Linked DNA regions of Homo sapiens: region 2 is linked to region 1. Evidence: fine-mapped QTL for protein levels in blood plasma. A gene starts in region 1. The other region holds a variant in brackets. All regions are shown on one strand. Distances are between the middles of the regions. Region 1 holds the start of VTCN1 (V-set domain containing T cell activation inhibitor 1). Region 2 overlaps VTCN1 (V-set domain containing T cell activation inhibitor 1).

The links. PIP is the chance, under the fine-mapping model, that this variant and not a neighbour inherited with it causes the effect. Protein levels are from antibody-based Olink assays in UK Biobank. Linkage for the fine-mapping came from a reference panel and not from the study's own genotypes, which makes the PIPs less certain.
Region 2: its variant is fine-mapped to the plasma level of the VTCN1 protein (UK Biobank, PIP above 0.99).

The regions. Positions count from the first base shown.
Region 1 is chr1:117,206,663-117,216,901 of GRCh38, reverse strand. It overlaps VTCN1 (V-set domain containing T cell activation inhibitor 1), which reads left to right and starts at 5,975. Exons shown (of 6, transcript NM_024626.4): 1 at 5,975-6,078. The coding sequence starts at 6,047.
Region 2 is chr1:117,176,580-117,186,818 of GRCh38, reverse strand. The region is part of intron 1 of VTCN1 (V-set domain containing T cell activation inhibitor 1); the gene reads left to right. Among named protein-coding and RNA genes, the nearest start is that of VTCN1, 29 kb to the left of the region's middle. The variant A/T (reference allele first, on the strand shown) is at 6,134.

The DNA.
Region 1 (10,239 bases):
AAAGTCAAGGTCTCAGACAAAGTGATAGCTCGTTAATATTTCACCAGATGTCAGCATCCCTTTCAATTAGCCGTTTGAAGTTTGCTATATTAAGACTACAAGGTCTGCTCTTCCCAGCTCTGCAAAATATTATAAGATCTCTTCTCCTTTAGCAGGATTCCAAATTCCTGCTAATGACAAGGTGTTTATCAGAATTGAGACTACCTTTGCAGAAATTATAACAGTGAGAAAATTATGGCAGTTGGGGAGATCTGATCTAGCCAACTCATTTCTGGCCTTTAGCCTTCAAGCTATACTTAATTATTACTGGGCTTGGGCCAAGCTAATTTTGGGAGACATTTAGTTTATAGTTTAAGTGAGAATAGCCCTTCCGCCAAACTTAACTGCCTTTGTAAAGCTAATGAGAGACCACCAGGCTAGGAGGATAGGGGAGCCTGAATTCTGCTAAGGTGTAGACATAAACAATTGCCAGCCATTACTCCAGAAGTCACAATGACACAGGATTTTTCTTGATCACTCTGCCAGTTGGAGAGCTCCTGCCAGCAATGCCCCTGCCCAGGCCTTGTTCAGGCCCAACCCTTTGATTGTCAGCATGACCTCATTTTTTTTGGACATGGGACTGGTGAAGGGCAGCTGCCCCATGCAACGGAAAGCAGTGGTGGTGCCAAGTTTGCCCCAGAGCTGCTGGCGAGAGTGGGGCAAGGAAATGACAGAGCTGTTAACATGCCACTGTCCACTAGGCAGCAGAAGCCGGGACTATAAGAGCTAATTAGCATGCTGTAACACCCCCTCTGGGGCTTTGGGGTCATGGACACCCCTGCCTAGGTGCCACTGCATTCCCCTTGTCTGGATGCCAGAGACCACCAGGGGAGTGGCTTGCAACATGCCTGGTCCAGTCGCAAGCACAGCACAGAGCCTGCTTCTGTGCCAGCACTTGGAACAACCGGCTAGGTCCACATTCACTCATGGGCGGGTGCTCTTCCTATCAGAGCCAGAATGTGCTGTGATTCCAAGGAAATGTAAGCCTTATACGCAGGAAAATATGCAGCTACACAATGAGAAAACAGAGCTCCAGGTGACTGGGCTATTTAAATAATTTTTTAAAAAAATTCATAGGCCGGGCGTGGTGGCTCACGCCTGTAATCCCAGCAGTTTGGGAGGCCGAGGCGGGCGGATCACGAGGTCAGGAGATCGAGACCATCCCGGCTAAAACGGTGAAACCCCGTCTCTACTAAAAATACAAAAAAATTAGCCGGGCGTAGTGGCGGGCGCCTGTAGTCCCAGCTACTTGGGAGGCTGAGGCAGGAGAATGGCGTGAACCCGGGAGGCGGAGCTTGCAGTGAGCCGAGATCCCGCCACTGCACTCCAGCCTGGGCGACAGAGTGAGACTCCGTCTCAAAAAAAAAAAAAAAAAAAAAAAAATTCATAAGACATTTTGGTTCCAGATACATTAAGTAATCTCTGTCTCTCTCTTTCCCCAAGATCAACAAGGAGAGAATAGATTTTGTGCTTATCTCCTACGTCTGCTTTACCTTTGTCCTAATCATAAATTGTTCCTCTATCTCAAATGCAACTTGTTCTCTGCTGCCTCTAATAGTGTCAATCCAGCTCAGAAGACATCTCCTCTGGAAAATGACTGATCACACCCCAAGTTGATCCCTGCTTACTCATCCATCAAATGTTACTGAGTGCTTTTTATGCCTGGCACGGTGCTAGGACCTGATAACAAAAAAAGATGAACGAGGCCTAGTTTTTACCCTCCAAGAGCTCACAGACTAGCAATGAGATAGATGCATAAATGGAAAATAGTACCATTACTGTGTGCTGTGAAAGAAAAATGTACATTTATCCAACAAACATCTAATGATTGCTTACTCTGTGCATGCCTTATGCTGGTGTGAAATACAAAAATGAATAAGACACCTTTCTATTTCTAAGGTGTGTCTAGTGAAGGAGACAGACAATTCAATGGTCCCAATTTAGGAGCATAGTAAGTAGCACCAGGTTCACATGGGATCCCGAAGCATGGCACCTGCCAGATGGTAGTTGTTGGGAAAGTTTCCCATAAATTTTATATAAAACAAGAAAAAGGCAGGGATGGATTCCAGGTAGAAAGAGCAACTTGTGTAAAGGCAGGATGGCTTGGGAGAGCACGCTGGCATTTTAGAGCAACCTGAAGCAGTGCAGTACGGCTGGTCCACAGAGGACCAAAAGGAGACATGAGGGAAAAATCTGGAGAGGTAGGCAGAGGCCAGACCACAGGCTCTGGAGAGGCATTGGTCATTTCAAGCAGGCAAGTGCCTCATCAGATTTGCATTTTAGAAAGATCATTCTAGTGGAAGTGGGTGGATCAGCACAAGTAGAGGCAGACTAGGAAAAGGACACTATTTAATAGTTTAATTCAAATTGGAAATGATGAGGGAGGAAATCTGGGCAATAGTATTGGGGATAGAGAGAAGGGATGGACTTAGGAGGCATAGAGGAGTTTTACGGGCTGAATTATGTCTCTCCTCAAAATTCATAAAGTCCTAACCCCCTGTATTTGGTGATAAGGCCTCCAAAGAAGTAATTAAGTTAAAATGAGGTCATCAGGATGGGCCCTAATCCAATATGACTGGTGTTCTTATAAGAAGAGGAGATTAGGGCTGGCACTATAATCCCAGCACTTTGGGGGGCCGAGGCGGGTGGATCACCTGAGGTCAGGAGTTCGAGACCAGCCTGGCCAACGTGGTGAAACCCTATCTCTACTAAAAATACAAAAAATTAGCTGGGCATGTTAGTGGGCACCTGTAATCCCAGCTACTTGGGAGGCTGAGGCAGGAGAATTGCTTGAACCTGGGAGGTGGAGGTTGCAGTGAGCCGAGATCGCGCCATTGCACTCCAGCCTGGGCGGCAAGAGTGAAACTCCGTCTCAAAAAAAAAGAAGAAGAGATCAGGACAAACACACACAGAGGGAAGGCCACGTGAAGACACAGGGAGAAGAAACCATCTACAAGCCAAGGAGAGAGGCCTCAGGAGAAACTAACTCCGCTGACACCTTGATCTCAGCCTTGCAGCCTCCAGAATTGTGAGAAAATACATTTCCATTGTTTCAACCACCAGTCTATGGTACTTTTTTATGGCAGCCTTAGTAGACTAACCCAAGGAGGAGGAATCAGGGATGTAGGGAGCCAGGCAGGCGGAATAAAGGGTGACTTTGAGGTTTCTGACTGTGGCAGCCTAGTGTGGGATGCTGTTGTGTTCCAAAAGATGTGACCTAGGGGGAGCAGCCGGGTTAGAGATGGGAGATGGTGCCTTCTAGACAGCCGATTGGAGATGTCCACTAAGCAGCTGGGTATGTGGGGTTGGGGCTTGGTCAAGGGAAGGGAGCTGAGGATGCAGATATTGTGATCTCCAGAGCAGTCGAAGCAGAGCAGTGGTCAAGGTTGCCCAGGGCACATGTGTGCTATGAGAAGAAAAGGCAGAGGACAGGACCACAGGGACCCCTATCACTTATGGGAGAGGCGAAGGAAAAGGGCCTGGGCACAAGACAGTGAGGGGCATTAGTGAGAGTCTCAGAGAACAGTGTCAGGGGAGCCAAGAGAGGCTTTCAAATGCTGGAGAGTTCAATGTTTCCAAGACTCTCTCTTTACACGTGCACGCGCGTGCACATGCGCACACACACACTTTTGGGCTGTTGCTTTGTAATGATTTCCCTCATTATTTTGTGTGTGATATTCTTCAAGTTTTGGAGTCAGAACCAGAGTACTGTCCATTTGCTTCTCCAGAGGCAGCAGAATGCTTTTCAGCTCCACATCCCTGCCAGGTAATGCCTGCCCTCTAACAGGTGGGCCACTTCAGCTACATTTTCCCTCTCACTCGGAGGTGTCTCTGCTGGGTTGTCTTGATTTTCCCTCCAGGGTCATCCTTAGCTGTCCCTTTAGTGATGATGCATGGCTAGAAGAGAGAAACTCCATGGCTCTGCCCCAGGGTGTTTGAGGTGGGGCTGCTTTTTTGTTTTTTTTTTAAGACAGCATCTTGCTTTGTTGCCCATCGTGGAGTATACTGGCACGATCATGGCTCACTGCAGCTTCAAGCCCCACTCAAGTGATCCTCCCACCCCAGCCTCCTGAGCAGCTGGGACTATATGCCCAGCTAATTTTTTGTTTGTTTTCCTGTTACTAGATGGATTCTTTTTTTTTTTTTTTAAATTTTGTAGAGACGAAGTCTCAGTATGCTGCTCAGGCTAGTTTCGAACTGCTAGGCTCAAGAATTCCTCCTACCAGCCAGGCGCAGTGGCTCATGCCTGTAATTCCAGTACTTGGGGAAGTCGAGGTGGGTGGATCACTTGAGGTTGGGAGTTCGAGACCAGCTTGGCCAATATGGAGAAACCCCGTCTCTACTAAAAATACAAAAATTAGCTGAGTGCGGTGGTGCACCTATAATCCCATCTACTTGGGATGCTGAGGCAGGAGAATCGCTTGAACCCAGGAGGCAGAGGTTACAGTTACAGAGCCAAGATTGTACCATTGCACTCCAGCCTGGACAACAGAGCGAGACTCAGTCTCAAAAAAAAAAAATTCCTCCTACCTTGGCCTCCCAAAATATTGGGATTATAAGCTTGAGCCACTGTGCCCAGCTGAAGCTGCTCTTCTTAAGGCTCATTGAGGGGTAGGGCAGAATCCCTGTGCCTTTGGTTGGAATTACAGAAACCACTGCTCCCACTGCCCTCAGCTTCCCCAGACCCGGGAAGTGACCATTCAGCACTGGCACTGCATAGATTCCAGGGCATCACCCTTTACTTATTCTGGGGAAGGGAAAGCACATAGACCCGCCTCTCATTTATCCCTCACTGCAACCCAGTGAGACACACATTGAAGTAAAGTGATGTTCTCAAAGCCACATGATTAATTAGGAACCCAGGAATTGAACCTAGCTGTTTGACTCTAAAGGTCTTTCCACTGTGACCTTGCCCTCTCCTGCTGCCTTATTTTCACCACTCAGTTCTCTCTGCTCCATCTTTACTCAATGGTTGCTCCACCTGCCCATACGCAAACACTAGGAGGATGCTGCTGAAGGCCTGGAGCACCTTCACTGCAAACATAGTCAGTCAGCAGCAGCAGTAAGCCAGGCAACCAGTCATGAAACTTTCCCATCCAAGGTACTTCTGGGGGCTGGAGGAAACAATAAGGAGAGAGAGAGAGAATAAGAGAGAGAGAGAGCAACGTTTAGGCTTTAACGAGAATCTTGCCTAGTTGGCAATCTGCTGGATGAAATGTCAGAGATTTTTGCTAACCCACTCACCTTTGACAGCAATAGCTTCTGAGTATTGGGATCTCCAGAGAGAGGGGCAGTTGAAGCAGAGCACATTCAGTGTCTTTTTGGAGTCTCAAAAAAATTGCAAGGTGGGAAGTGCTGGCCCTCTCCTGCTCCCACTGAAATGAAGCTGGAAGAGAATTGCACACCCAGCTGGGCATCTCAGGAGACCTAGGCAAGTTCAGTCTTGAGTGACAAACTCAGTGGTCTTGTCACTTCAGCTCATGGCCTTCCTGAGGTCCCCCAGCATGAGTCTCCTCCACGAGAGACCTGACCAATGGTGACCCAGCCTCTGTTTGAGCGTCATCTACCAGCAGAGATGGGGACTCCTGGCCCCAAGGCTCCCAGCATAGCCTGACACTTTGAGCTATTCCAGTCCTTTCTTATTTTGAGATTAAATCTCCCTCCCTACAGCTCCCTTCCACAGTCAGGAGGAAAGTCCTGCTGAATGCAGGCCCTGAAGCAAGGGCCAGGGAAGCTTTTCCTCGTCACCCTCCCAAAGTCAAGACTTGGAAAGGCAGCTCTGAGCCCCTGGCTTGGCTGGCTGGCCGGAGCAGGCAGCCACTGTGCCTGCAGGGAATTCTGCACAGCCAGTTTCCTCATACCTGAGCCGTCTACAGCTGCACGCACCACTCCCGGCCTCAACACACTATTTAAGGCCAATACACGGGAGCTGGTTGTGAGTCACCAAGGAAGGCAGCGGCAGCTCCACTCAGCCAGTACCCAGATACGCTGGGAACCTTCCCCAGCCATGGCTTCCCTGGGGCAGATCCTCTTCTGGAGGTAGTATATACTCTTCTCTCTATCCTTATGGGTGAAGGGAACAGCAGTGAGGTCTTTTGGGGATGCTGAGCACTGCTGGGCTGTCCCATAGGACCCCACCTGTAATTTTATCTGATCCAGCATTGGGCCAGCGGGAGCCTGGCCAGACAAGAGCCTAACTGGATTTGACTTAACATCCCACCTCAGCTGCTCAAGGCACCTGTTCAGGGTTAGGGAGGTTTTTGGTTGGTGGCCTGCCATGGAGGGCTGGCGCTTGCTGGGCAGCTTGGACTGAGGGGAGTACGTGCCAAGCTGGGCATTCCCCTGAGATGTCAAGGCTGTGAGCACCATGGGGACACTGAGCAGGCTGGTGTGGGTTGCATGGTGGGATGGCAGGGAATCCATGACTGCGACAGTGGAGGGGATGCAGGAGGACCCTTTATGCAGCCCCCAGGGGGACGGAGGAGAATGTGCTTTCATTCTCTGTGGGTGTGATTTCTTGCTACTCTTGAGCAATTCACACCAACACCCCTCCCCAGGCCCCCCCAGCTCAAAGGTTGGGTCCCTAGTTTTCCTAGGAGCTCCTTGGAGAGGAGAACTTGCTGCTGCTGCTGCTGCTGCTGCTGCTGCTGAACTCCCCAGAGAGGAAGAAGGAAGCAAGTTCCCTCCCCTACCTTTTGCTTCTCCCCTGAGCTACATTCTAGTTGCCTCTTTTTCCCTCAGAACAGCATTTACCCTCCTGGAAGGAAAGAGATGGAAAGTGCAGGGTTTTCTTGAAATGATTGATTCAGTGTCAGTCACAACTCAGGACAGTGTTTAGGGAGGCTGATACTTGTTGGTTCTAGAGGTTGTTTGAAGGACCAGTCCTCCAATTTGTTTCTTTTTCCCACAAAAGGAAGAAAAGAAGAGAGGGAAGGAGAGAGGAAAGGAATCCTCAGGTCAACAGTGAAAAGTTTGTGAAGAGACTACGAGAGTAATGTTACTTCCCAGAGGCAGCCTAGAAAGTTCTTTTCCTTGAAACAAAATATCAGCTCCCCTGACTCGACTCACGTTTATCTGAAATCACCTGCCGGGTAGCAGAGGTGAAGGACTCTGCAGGGCTGGTGGGGGTGGCTGCAGCGGCACTTCTGCCCCCACCCCTGTGCCTGGCTACAGCACTGTGCTCCAGGAGAAGCAGTGGGTGGCAGGGGCTTCCCTCTAGACCCTTCTGCCCTGAGAGGATGTCCCTAAGAAGCACCTATGTCAGAGGAGCTAGCATTTTGTGAGTGACTCCTTCCCTGCCCTGCACTAGGTGTCTTAGAGCAGCGTGTCCACCACTGCCTTGTGAAGACTCGTTATCACCTCAGAGAAGTTAAGGCCAGATGACTGTGAAACTGTGCATGAGGGGATCTTGCTCTGAAATCCCAAGCTCTCTCCCCCTGCCACCCTTGCCCCTGCTCCTGCCAGTCCCAGTTCTCCATGCCCACCATTCCTCCAGCCTTGATCCCAAGGACATGAAACACTCCTCCTGCAACAAGTGGCTCCATTGTTCAGAGGTCAGATGGGATGTGTGGGCTCTCTCGTAATGCTTTGCATCCAGTCTGACTGGTTTTGCTGGAGGATTAGCAGGAGGTGGGTGTTCAAAATTCGTATCCCCTACCCTTCAGAAACCCACTGGAATCAACAGAGACTCCTCTTGTTGGCTCCTGCATGCCTTGTTGGCTATTCATGCTCTGCAGTTTCAGAAGCAGCGACTGTCCATGAGGGTGGCAGATCCTTTGTGCAAGGGACCTCCAGGAAGAGGGCCAATGAGCAGCTTCAGTGGGGAGCAGGATCATGAAAGCTCATCTCAGGGATGCAGGTGGAGCCTGCCTGGGGTAACTCTTGACCCTAATAACCCTCTTCCTTTGTCATAATGGCCTTAATTCATAAAAATACCTCTCCTGGAGGTGATCATGACAGTGGTGATGTTGGAACGCTCATGAAAGGGCCTGCCATCCTCTGCAGACCCAGTGAGTTATTCTCCTAAGTATTCATAATTTCCAGAGAGCCTAATTCCTTCAGATCTCACTCTCAGCATGCATGCTGCTCAGGGATGGAATGCTGATGTGCAGATTTTACCGTGCCTGGCCTCTGTGCACATTTAGGAACTGTGTGACTAGAACCCTCCTCCCCTCTCCCCATCATGGCTGTTGACAGCAGCAGCATTCGCTCATGAAACATTTGCAGAATGCTTGCTAGGAGGACAGGGGTAGAAAACCCTTGCTCTGAGGGGGTTAAGTTCCAGTCAACAATATTAACTGAGCACTCACTGTGTCCTGAATATTGCACTAGACAATGGGGCAAAAGTGACTAAGATGCTGTCAAGGTCATAACCTAATGGAGGAGAAAGACTCCCACATAACAACTCTAACGCGCCACCCTTAAGTCCTCAGACAATAAGCACAGGTTGCAAGGGGAGCACTTCCCTCACCCAAGGCTTTTGGGGAGGGTTTCTGAGCCAGAGAATGGGTGGGCTGTGTCTTGAAAAATGAGTTCATATGACCCAGGTGAAGAAGGGTGGAAAAGGCTGTCTAGGTAGAGGAAACAGAATTAAATCAAATACAATAAAACTCATGAATGAGCATGGTGTGTTGGAAAGCTACACACTACTGTGTATTATCATCATAACATGAAGTTTGAGGCAGGAAATGCTGGGAGATGAGGCTGAGAGGTCACACCAGGTCACACTGGGCCTTCGATAGACTCAGAACTGGGATTTGTGGTGATGAGGAGCCCTTACAGGCACAGGCCATATTGGTGTCCAACTTTCAGCTTCCCTGAGCCTATAAAATCTGAGCCTTCAGAGCCTTCAGAGGGGGGTCAAGGTGGTTTTCGTCTCAGGTGGGCAGCAAGCCTGGAGGCCAGAAGAAGAGTTGGGAAACAGTTGTGGTCAGAGTATACAGGATGACAGGGACCTGGCATAGATGAGAGTGAGAGTAAAGAACTACAGGAGGAAAATGGATTCAGGAAACACTGGACTTAAAACTGGTGATATTTGATCAATGATTGGAGGGGCAGGTAGGATGCTGCAGAATAAGAGTAGGTGAGGCAAGGGGCAGATCCTGGAATGACTACCATGTTTCTGGATTGGGTGCAGTGAGTTGGGGACAAGGAAGAGAGAGGAGAGCTAGTTAATGTGTTGAGCTTGAGATTCCCCTGGGACCTTCAGATGGGGATGCTCCCTGGGCAGCAGAGGGCATGAGGCTAAAACTAGGAGAGGTCAGGCCTGGGGATAGACATCTAGTGTCAATAGCTCAAGGGCAAGGAATAGTCATAGGGGGTGGCTCCTACGGAGAGCATGTGGAGGGAGGGAAGCAAGGGGCCAGGACGGATGGCTGAAGAACACCAACATTCAAGGGTGGGCAGAGGAAGAGGGGGGTCAGGGAAAGAGCTGAGAATAAATGGCAAGACAGGTAGCAAGAGGCCAGGATAGAGATTAATGGATGTCAACAGAGCAGAGTTTCATGGAACACACAAGGCTAGTGATCCATAAACCTTTACCCTGTTTCATCTGAAATCACTAGTGACAATGGCATTGATAAAAACATGTCACAGGAAGGAAGCTACTGAGTAGAGAAGGAGCAGGGATCTTTCTACCATAGGAAGGTGGATGAAGTAGAGAATGAGGGATCCTGGGACAAGGAGGCTCAGGGAGTTTGCTTTGGAATTTTGGTTTCCCATTTCTCCTAAGTTTGCAAGCTGGTGCCTGGCTCAGACATCTCAGACCTTGAAGGTCAGAGAAAACAGTGCCTCGCAACACCATGGAAGCTTGTCTGGTAAGAAAATCTTGCTTGAGCCTGGGCTGAGGAGATCTCAGCACAGGCCGTATTTGTGTCCAACTTTCAGCTTCCCTGAGCCTATAAAATCTGAGCCTTCAGAACCTTCTGAGTCCATCCCGTGAACAGGACAGGAATCTGCAAAATGAGATAAATTGTACATTGGAAGAAAGACTTAAATAGGTGGCACCTGTGTTCCTGCTCCTATTGAGGGTAGATGATTTTCTGAGTGTTATGCTTTTCCCCCATCTCCACCTGTTGCAATGCTAGTCATTTCTTTCAATATTCAGCTCAAATGCCACCTCCACTTTGAAGTCTTACAGGATCTTTCTAGTTGCCATCAATTGCCCATCTTATGTTCATAGTCAGCATCAACAGATATGAA
Region 2 (10,239 bases), 30 kb after region 1:
TGGCCTCAAGCAATCCTCCCGCCCCAGCCTCTCAAGGTGCTGGGATTCCAGATGTGAGCAACCACTGGCCTGGATAATTCAGATGTGTCTTCCTACAGTGCCCATGGCTTCATGGACATCAGTGAATGTACAGAGAATATCTGGACTTGAAGTGGAGAGGGAAAATAAGGGGCCCCATCCATTATACCTACCCTCTCATTCCCTGCATTCTATCTCTTATCCAATTATTTCTTTTCCTTCACAATAACTAGTTCATTTCACTTTCCAAGCCCCAGTTCCAACATAAAACACAACATTATAAAATCACAAAATACTTAAAAAGCATAAGAATGAACTTGCTTCTCTAATACTGCTGAGGCAGGCATGGAGGAAGCTGTAACCAGTTAAGGGCCTTGCCTGGTTTATGCTTCTGAGCCCCAGCATCTTGAAGACGCTTCATTTGGCTGTCTAAGCAGGTACAATCCACTTTATACACTAAGAAAATGCCTCCTTGGGGGTCCAACCACACCATAGCTACATGACTCAGATTTAATACGATTGTTCTAATTTCAGCTATATTACTTATTGTCTCTCCAACCATTGACATATTCCAGAAATTCGAATAGCTATGAAGCCAAACTATGCCTTTCAGATCTCTCATGCCTGGAAATAGCTCTCATGACCATTGTTGAACTACATTTCCAGTTTCTGGAAAAGATGGTTCCTATAACTAGGGACCATATTTCAGAACAGTGAAGCAGAATTTCATGCAAGGAATGTGTGAAACTAAAAGTATCTGAGACAGGTCTTAATCAATTAAAAAAGTTTATTTTGCCAAAGTTAAGGATGTGCCCATGACACAGCCTCCAGAGGTCTTGACGGTATGTGCCCAAGGTGGTTAGGGTACAGCTTGCTTTGATACATTTTAGGAAGACATAAGACATCAATCAGTACATGTAAGCTTTACATTGGTTCAACCTGGAAAGGTGGGACAACTTGAAGTGGGGGTTGGGGGGCTTCAAGGTCACAGGTAGATTTAAAAATTTTCTGACTCGCAAATGGTTGAAAGAGTTACTATCAATAGAAAGGAATTTCTAGGTTATGATAAGAGCTTGTGGAGACCAAGATTTTATCACGCAGATGAAGCCTCCAAGTAGGCTTCAGAGAGAATACATTGTAAGTGTTTCTTATCGGATAAAGCCTGTGTTGATTGTAATGCTGGTGGGCTTTTCTTGAATTCTAAAAGAGAGGAGGATATAATGGGGCATGTCTGACCCCCTCTGCTTCCTATCACGGCCTGAACTACTTTTGCTGATTAACTTTGGAATGCCCTTGGCCAAGAGGAGGGGTCCATTCAGGTGGTTGGGGGGCTCAGAATTTTATTTTTGGTTTACAAATGCCACTTTGGCACTGATCAGGACATCCCCAGCCTAGGTATATTTTGATTCTGATGGCAGCCCATGGAAACTTTTTCTGGTGGAATGTGGTTGGCTTCCATGAAGTAGTAGAAAAATTGCCTAGATGGCAAAGGACCAAGACCCTAGTCATTCCTGCCTCTTTTCCCATAGGGCCCTGGTTTCTGCTGCCACAACTTGGTCTTTCCTGGGTTTCTCAGGAAGAAACCTGAGACTTGAAGTGACCACTTGGAACTGTTGTATTTGACTGAAATATGAGAAAATGTCTCTGCCCTTGGTTTGGGTAAGATATGCCTAAAAGATGGAAGAAACTAAGAAACATTATAAATATAAAACTAACGGTGCTAGTTATTTATCCTAACTTCTTAAGTCTAAGTCAAGATCTGACTTAGCTGTGGCAGCATTAGAGGTACCAGCATTTGTTCCTTTTCTTACCTCTGGGTTAGCAAGAAGCAAAGCTAATTAGTTTCTAGACTAAGGGAAAACTGGCTGGGCATTGCTTCCAGGCCTAGGAGGATTCTCAGTCCCTAACAGAATCTGCCTCTAAGTGTCTCTGGATGAAACATTCTTCTCCTAACTCTATCCTTCACCCCTTTGGCCTTGAAACACAACACGCTTGGTATCCACAGTCACCCTGGCTCTTGCTGTGGTCCTTAGCCTCTGAGTAGCAGGAAAGGGAGCCAACATCTTTAGTGCCTTTGCTCCATGCCAGGCACTATCCTCCCAACGCTACATACACACATCATGAAGAAGGGCACCAAGTGAAGAAAGGAGCTTCCTCCCTGGACTTTAAATATTCTTCCCTGAAGCTCAGAAATATGCTGTAAGTATTAAAAAGATGGTAGTACTGCCCACTGACACCCCTACCAGCCAGCATAGAATTCAAAGTATAAAGAACACTGAACTATAAAAATACACACAAGGTAAAAAAAATTGCTTAAAGTCACTTCTTTCTAGTTTTCCTGATTATAAATTTCTAGATAAGTTCATTGAAGCTTAACTTTTCCCTCTGGTCACTTTTTGTGTGTGTGTTGGTCAGGGATGGCAGAGACAGGTTGCCACTCCTGCTTGGCTAATGCTGGAAGGACAAGCTCAGTCAGCCTCGCAGATAGCCCAGTGCTGCCCAGACTTCAGGTGACTCTGGACTGGCCTAACAAATGCCTTCCATATCTTAAGGTTCTTGATAGCTTGGACTGCTGCACAGCAAAGCTGGGGCAGGGGGAGTACCAGAAGGCAACAACCTCACTTGGTCTTGGTGCTGGGTAAAGAAAAAAATATATATTCCCTGAAACTGTGTATATATAAGACAGTCATCATGCAGATTTGAGGCCTGAATTCATAACATCTCCATTTCCCAAAACCTCTGAAACCAAGATTTCATTTTAAAGGGCTCCTACTTGGCAGTGAGTCCCCAGCTTGAATGGCCCCTTAGCTTTGTCTCTGGTGTTTGGTATGGCTCTGAAGACAGAAGCTTTTGGTCCCTGGAATGCATAGCCATTGCGCCCAGCACTCTCTTACTGATCTGGACTCATGTGCTGGTTTCATTTTTAGCCTCTGCAAATCTCCCTCATTTTTCTTGCTGGCAAAAATGAAGTACCCAAAAATGTGTGTGTGGTTTTGTCTTTTATTTTTTTCTTTTTATTCAGCATTTCAAGTATTTTTATCAAGGATTTTTTTAAAGGCTATTTAGTATGCACTATTCTGGAAATTTAACTCTTCATTCCCTACAATGTCCTTTCTCTTTTAGAGAAACACTTCTATTTTGCCCCTTGTTTGTGGAGAGAAATGTCCAAGAGGACTCAAGTTTAACAAGTATTCAAGCACAGCTATTATGAATCTCTAGGTCCCCTTCTTAGCCACAGCCAACCAGGTCTTCCATGTACAACCCTCCAAGGCATTTTGTTACAATTTATAGCATCAGCAAGATTTCTGATACCACAATTTTTTAAAAGACTGTTTAAAGAGAAAGATAAATGATCATTTCTCCCATAAATGGTTTCTCAAAAGTTAAGAATGTGTTAGTTTCTCTCAGTAGCACAGCATGGATATTTATTTATTCATTAATTCAACATATTTTAAAGACTATGTGCTAGACGCTCCAAGGGAAGCAGTCTGTAAGGTGGGGCATTTATTCAACAAGCATTTGGTAAGTTCCTTGCATGTTCCAAGAACTTGAAAAATAATAGGAACGAAGGCATGGAGGCAAGAAGCAGCCTGGCGTAGTCAGGGACCCAGAGTGGTTTAGAATGGATGGAGTGTGGAGGTGACGGGAGATGGGAGAAAGTAGTCACAGGTTTATATAAAATCTTCTTGAGCTTATATTTTTATTCAAACTTTCAGGTTTAGTATGCTTTCTTCGCTTTCTATGCTTAAATCAATACTTTATATTTTAATCTTATTCTTTTTCTTTAAAAAATGGTATCAGAATGTATAGAAGGCTTAGAAAATAAAACAGACATCTTGTGATTCATAAGAGCTCCGTAGCCCATCTCCAGGTCAGTGTCAGGCCCTGGGCTTCAGTGGGTCAGAATGGCAACCAAAGGTGGGGTAGGTACAGGACACAGCACATAGCATCAGGTTGGGAGTCTCTACCAGGGGAATGTTGAAATCTATAGAAGAAAACTAAGACTGGTGCCCTGGAAGTCAGGCTGGACCAGAGAGAAAAGACCAAGTAACAGAATCTGAAATCACGAGGCAGGCCCTGTGTTGAAGGCAGCTCCAGGGAGTAAGAAAACTACAGATTCCAGGCTGGAAGGCCTGGGAAGCTTCCTTTGTGTCTGCTACAGATGGTCAGGACCACAGAAGGGTTCTACATAAGGTTGCCTCCACCCTAGGACAGGGAGTGTCTCCCTGCCTTGGGTTTCAGAATGCCCCTTGACATAGGCAGGCAAGGGTTGTTATGGTACCAGAGCAGCCGCAGGGGCTGCAGCCGGGAAATTGCTCAGGCAAGCCAGGCCCTCAAGGGGTGGGTCTGGCAGCCTGATTTTCATACCTAAATTCTCACAAGCTCTACATAGCTACACCTACAGAACTGGGGCCCAGTCTAAAATATGAGAATGTAGGTCCCAGCAGGCGAGGATTTGCATTGGAACTCCTGGTAGATCTTTTGGAAGACTGAACAATACATCCTCTACTTACTTCTAGGATACAGTGGTCTGCTTTTCACTGGGAGGACTTTCTGCCATTATAAAATAAAGATAGTGGATGACAGAAGACTTGGAGTGTACAAATATGACATTGTACATAGAGAAATCAGACTGCCTAAGACAGGTGTATGGGCTTTCGTAGAGAGAAGCTCTGAGGGCAATAGACGTACTTGTTTCCAGCTTTATTAATGAATAAACAGTGCACTGATCCCAGGGCTAGGCTTTCCGAGAAGCAGCCAGCCCAAGTGCTTCTCTGAATCTCTTCAGTGACAGGCACAGGTTTCCTGAAGGCAAGAAAAGGAATGAAATTCAAAACAGTCACGGTGGCTTTAGGGTGTTGCAAAGGTAATCTAGATTACAGCTCACTCTCCCTGTCAGGCCATCCATCTGCCTGAGGCCCAGATCACGGTGACTGATGACCAGGGTGACTGATGACCACGCTGACTGATGACCACACTGACTGATGACCTCGCTGAAATGCACGTCCCTCACAGGGAGCCTGCCCTGTTCTTCCTCTCAGCTCTTTTGGGGCCTAGTTCCCCCTCCCAGCTCCTGTCTCAAACCTTAGTGCCACTCAAGCACTTCCTCCTCTTGTCTTCACACATGTTCAGCCTCCTGAGGTTCACCTGCCTTCCCACTCCCTTAAATCCATTTAAAAAAGAGAAGGGAGGGCACGTTCTGGGCTGGCCCTCAGGAAGGAGCCTGAGGCAGGTCAGAGCTGAGCTAGGCTCTGGATGGGCCTGCTTCTCATTACCTGGGAAGAGGTGGAAGGGTGTTCTAAGCAGAGAGCAACTGGGCAGTGAACAGTCTGATGAGAATACAGGGATTCCTAAAGGGAGAAGGGTTAGAAAAATAGCTCGGTGCATTTAAAGGTGGTCTTAAATTCTAGGATCAGTTTCAACTTTCCTTTTTCTTTTCCATGACCACCAGTCAAGAACAGTTTGAACTTTCATAAGCAATCAGGAGTTACTTAAATTTGGGAATAGTGAAAAGTAAAAATAAGCATTTACTTTTTTTTTTTTTTTGTAAAGACAGGGTCTCACTATGTTGCCCAGGCTAGTTTCCAACTCCTGGCCTCGAGCAATTCTCCCACCTTGGCCTCCCAAAGTGTTAGGACTACAGGCATGAACCACCACTCCTAGCCAAGAATTAACATTTATAGTTTTAAAATAACAGCTAATATTTACATTTTGTAAGGAAGAGTTTGTTTCTTTGGACCCTCACGATAGCCCTGTGGAAAAAGTCGTGTTGAATCTGGAGGCAGGTATAGGATGAATTGCAGTGTTGCCCAACTGTTCATGTCTCCTGCTCCTGTGGAGCCCCCATTAGGAAATGCCGGGTTCTCTGTAGAGTGGATAAGGGGAGGAATAGCAGCAGCTTCTTTTTGTTGCATCCATTCCAGAAATGATCAGGCTGTCCCTGAGCAGTGCTCCTGCCCTTATCTATGGCTGGGCTGGAGGAGGAGAGGTGAGCAGAAGTGGAGAGAGGCGGGGAGAGCAAGGGGATGCCAAGATTATGGTGGGGAGGAGTTGGTGAATGGACAGCAGCCAGGACAACAGCCAACCATGAAAAGAAGTGTTCATTAGCAGCCAG[A/T]TCCCACCCAGGTGCTGTGAGCACCCCTGCAATCTCTCTTAACCTCCACTTTGGAAGACAGACAATTAGGCTGTTTTTGTTCACATGGCAGAGACTGCTTATGGGATACTCAGCTTTTCTAACAGTACAGGCCCTTTGTGGGAGGGTCATGAAAGGTTTGGAGTGTGTTTGTTATTCAGTACAATGGGATCAGTTATGCTGCTGAAGGAATCTTGTGGAAATGTTTTTTTCTCTGCAGTGAGAATAAGGAGGAGCAGGAAACACAGGTATGATTACGAAAAGGACTGGTAATCAACCTTACATTGCCTTTTGTCTCGCTCTGCTTGTACCAGTGAAAAATAGTGTGCACAAGGATGATGAAGAAATGCTAATACATGCTTATGGCAATCAGGGTGATGCTATAAATAGGACAGGCTTAAGAATAATATAGAATGGCTTTGCTGCAAACTCAAATACGGTTTAAGGAAAGGTGTCTATTTGTTAACAGTGTGAAATTTTCCACCTGATACTCATGCCCCCTCCAGTTTTCCTTCCAGAGTCCCAAATGAAAGACACTTCCTGGGGGGGAGAGAAATTTTTTTCAATCTATGTAAGATTGTATGTGCTGTCCTTCCATCAGTTACAACTGTACAAACACAAGCCTAGCCACTGATTCGAATCCCAAGATTTACAAGTCTTTTGATTAATATAAAATATGGGATAATGGTTAAGACCAACGATGATGGCATCTGAGACCTGAGTCTAATCCTGCTCTCTTTAATTTCCCAGGACTGAGTCCTCAGGGGAATTACTTAACATTAGGCCTCAGCTTCCTCATCTATAAAACAAAGATAATAGTATCTATCTCCGTAGGTCGTCATAGGGATTAGATTAGATCGATGAGGCAGTGTACTCAGATAAATATTAGCTATCATTCTTATATGATTAACAAAGGTTTTAGGAGGCATGTGCAGACAAAGCCAAGGCCAGAGCAAATCCCAGGGAATATCAAATTACAGAATCATGTAACTAATTATTTGAAAGGGCCTTTCAAAATTGTTTGAAGCTTTATCTGGTACTAGAAACTTTTCCCACCCCCTGTGTGTTTACCCAGGCCCTGCTTGCACATGCATTTGCAGGCCAGTCTCCGCGAGCTCTGTTGGAAAGTTTCTCCAAAGTATTTTGAGTCTAAATCTAATCTCCTAGAACTTTCACTCAGTGCCTCTGTTTCTTCCTCCAGAGTGATGGAGAACAGGCCAAACACCACCTTTCAAATACTGAAATGATATCACTATATTTAGTCTTCTTCAAATTAAACCACCCTAGTTCCCTCAACTATTTTTCAAAAAACATGATTTCCAGTCATATCACCGCCCTGATTTCCCTTCTTCTAAATCAGTGGTTCTCAGCTGGGGTGACACGTCTGGAAACATTTTTGGTCGACACAGCAAGGGTAGTGTCAGTACTGGTATCTGGAAGTTACAGGCCAGGAATGCTGCTAAACATGCTACAGTGCACAGGATGACCCCCAATAACAAAGAATTATCTAGCACAAATAGTTCGTAGTACGGAGTTTGAGAAACCCTGTTCTAAGTATGCATGTTAATCAGTGTTCTTTTTAAAGTGTGGGCCAAAAATGTGCATGGATGAGTGTCAGCTAACATTGCTATTGTACCGCCACTACATTGCTATTAAATTAGCCTGAGATTCCCGTGGTTTTGTAGCTAGCAGTGAATTAAAGCCTCCTTTCATGTGTTTCTGCTAACCCAGGGATGGAATACACAGGGCCCACGTGCTCACTTAGAAAACATTCATAAGGCTGGGTGTGGTGGCTCATGCCTATAATCCTAATACTCTAGAGGCCAAGGTGGGAGGATTGCTTGATGCCAGGAGTTTGAGACCAGCTTGGGCCACATAGTGAAACCCTGTCTCTACATGAAATAAAATTAGCTGAGCGTCGTGGCACATGTATGTAGTCCCAGCTACTCAAGAGGCTAAAGCGAGAGGATTGCTTGAGCCTAGGAGTTCAAGGCTACAGTGAGATATGACTGTGCAACTGCACTGCAGTCAGGGGAATAGAGCCGGGCCCTGTCTCTAAAAAAAAAAAAAAAAAAAAAACGAAAGAAAGAAAAGAAAACACTGAAGGCCAGGTGCGGTGCAGTGGCTCACGCCTGCAATCCCAGCACTTTGGGAGGCCGAGGTGGGCGGATCACTTGAGGTCAGGAATTTGAGACCAGACTGGCCAACATAGTGAAATCCCATCTCTACTAAAAATACAAAAAATTAGCCAGGCATGGTGGCACATGCCTGTAATCCCAGCTACTCAGGAGGCTAAGGCAGGAGAATTGCTTGAACTCAGGAGGTGGAGGTTGCAGTGAGCCAAGATCACGACACTGCACTCCAGCCTGGGTCACAGAGAGAGACTCCATCTCAAAAAAAAAAAAAAAGAAAAAAAAGAAAGAAAGAACAAAAACACTCAGCCAGGTGTGCCTGTAATCCCCACACTTTTGGAGACCAAAATGGGAGGATCACTTGAGGCTAGGAGTTTGAGACCAGCCTGGGCAACATAGTGAGAACTTGTCTCTACAAATTTTTTGTTTTTTAATTAGCTGGGTGGTGTGCACCTGTAGTCCCAGCTACTTGGGGGAGGTGTGGTGGAAGGATTGCTTGAGTGTGGGAGGCCAAGGCTGCAGTGACCCACCATCGCACCACTGCACTCCAGCATGGGCAACAAAATGAGGCTGTCGCCACCCCCAACCTACCCCGCCAAAAAAAAAAAAAAAAAGAAAAGAAAACACTCATTAGTGGTGGCACTCTTCCCTGTGAGCACAGAGGCAATCTTGCAGTCTTTTTCAACACAATATTCTAAGCCACCACTACCAGTCATTCAAATGATTGTTGGCATACAAGATGAAATCTTTCTGCCAGCCATATTACCCTAGTTTTACAGTGTTGGGACCCAGGTCATGATTTAATTCTGGGTCCTGTGCTTTGGAAGAATCCACTAAACTGTGCTGTGATTCTTGGGGGTAGCTAGAAAGAAAAGAGGATGCTTCAACCTGATACTCAACAGCAGCCAAGTCTCTTATATGCAATTCCCCAAAATTCCTTTCCCAAATACAAAGCCTGGCCATCTGCTGCCATGTTGATGGAGCAGGGGCTGCCCAGAAAGGATGTCCTGTCTCTTCCACACACACCCCTCAAGCCCCACATAATGACTCCTCCTCATTGCAAAGTTCTCCTCAAGCCTGCACTCACCATTCCTGATGCTTCTGCTCTCGGTTTCCTGGACCAAAGCCAGCCTTGACTTTACCAGTATAAAGAGATACAGGGAGAGGGGTAGAGGCCAGGAAACATACTCTACACCTTGAATTCTTCAGCAAAGCAAAAACTGGAGTAGACAACAATCTAAGCTTCTCAGAAACCTGAAACCTATGCTAATCAATATCTAGGAAATGGTTAGTTTTACCTTGAAGCCCAATGCTTTATTCCACATAGCATTTAAAATAATTCCTTTTCCCCTTTATAGGAAATACTTTTTCCCCATAAAGAAATTTCCTTTCCCGCTTTTAATCTTCTTTTTCCTTTTTTGTTTTTTTGGTTTTTTTGAAATGGAGTCTTGCTCTGTTGCCCAGGCTGGAGTGCAATGGCACGATCTCGGCTCACAGCAGCCTTCGCCTCCTGGGTTCAAACGATTATCCTGCCTCAGCCTCCCGAGTAGCTGGGACTACGCATGCACACCACCACGCTCGGCTAATTTTTGCATTTTTAGTAGAGACGGGCTTTCACCATGTTGGCCAGGCTGGTCTCAAATTCCTGACCTCAAGTGCTCTGCCCTCCTGGGCCTCCCAAAGTGCTGGGATTACAAGCATGAGCCACCACACTCAGCCTTAATCTCCTCTTTGGATAGGCTGAAGTAAATGTCTTTAATTTCAGCATTCTTTATAAACCTAGTCACCTCGTTGGTTTGTGAACAATGTAATATGTTTGCTGCAACTTGATTTACTCAAATATCCTCCTTGGTATATTCAAATAAATCACACATTTGCAAAACTAATCTAGTTTTCAGGGTTTTAAACATTTATCAATCACACGAGTGGAGCTAAACTAATGATCTATAAGGAATG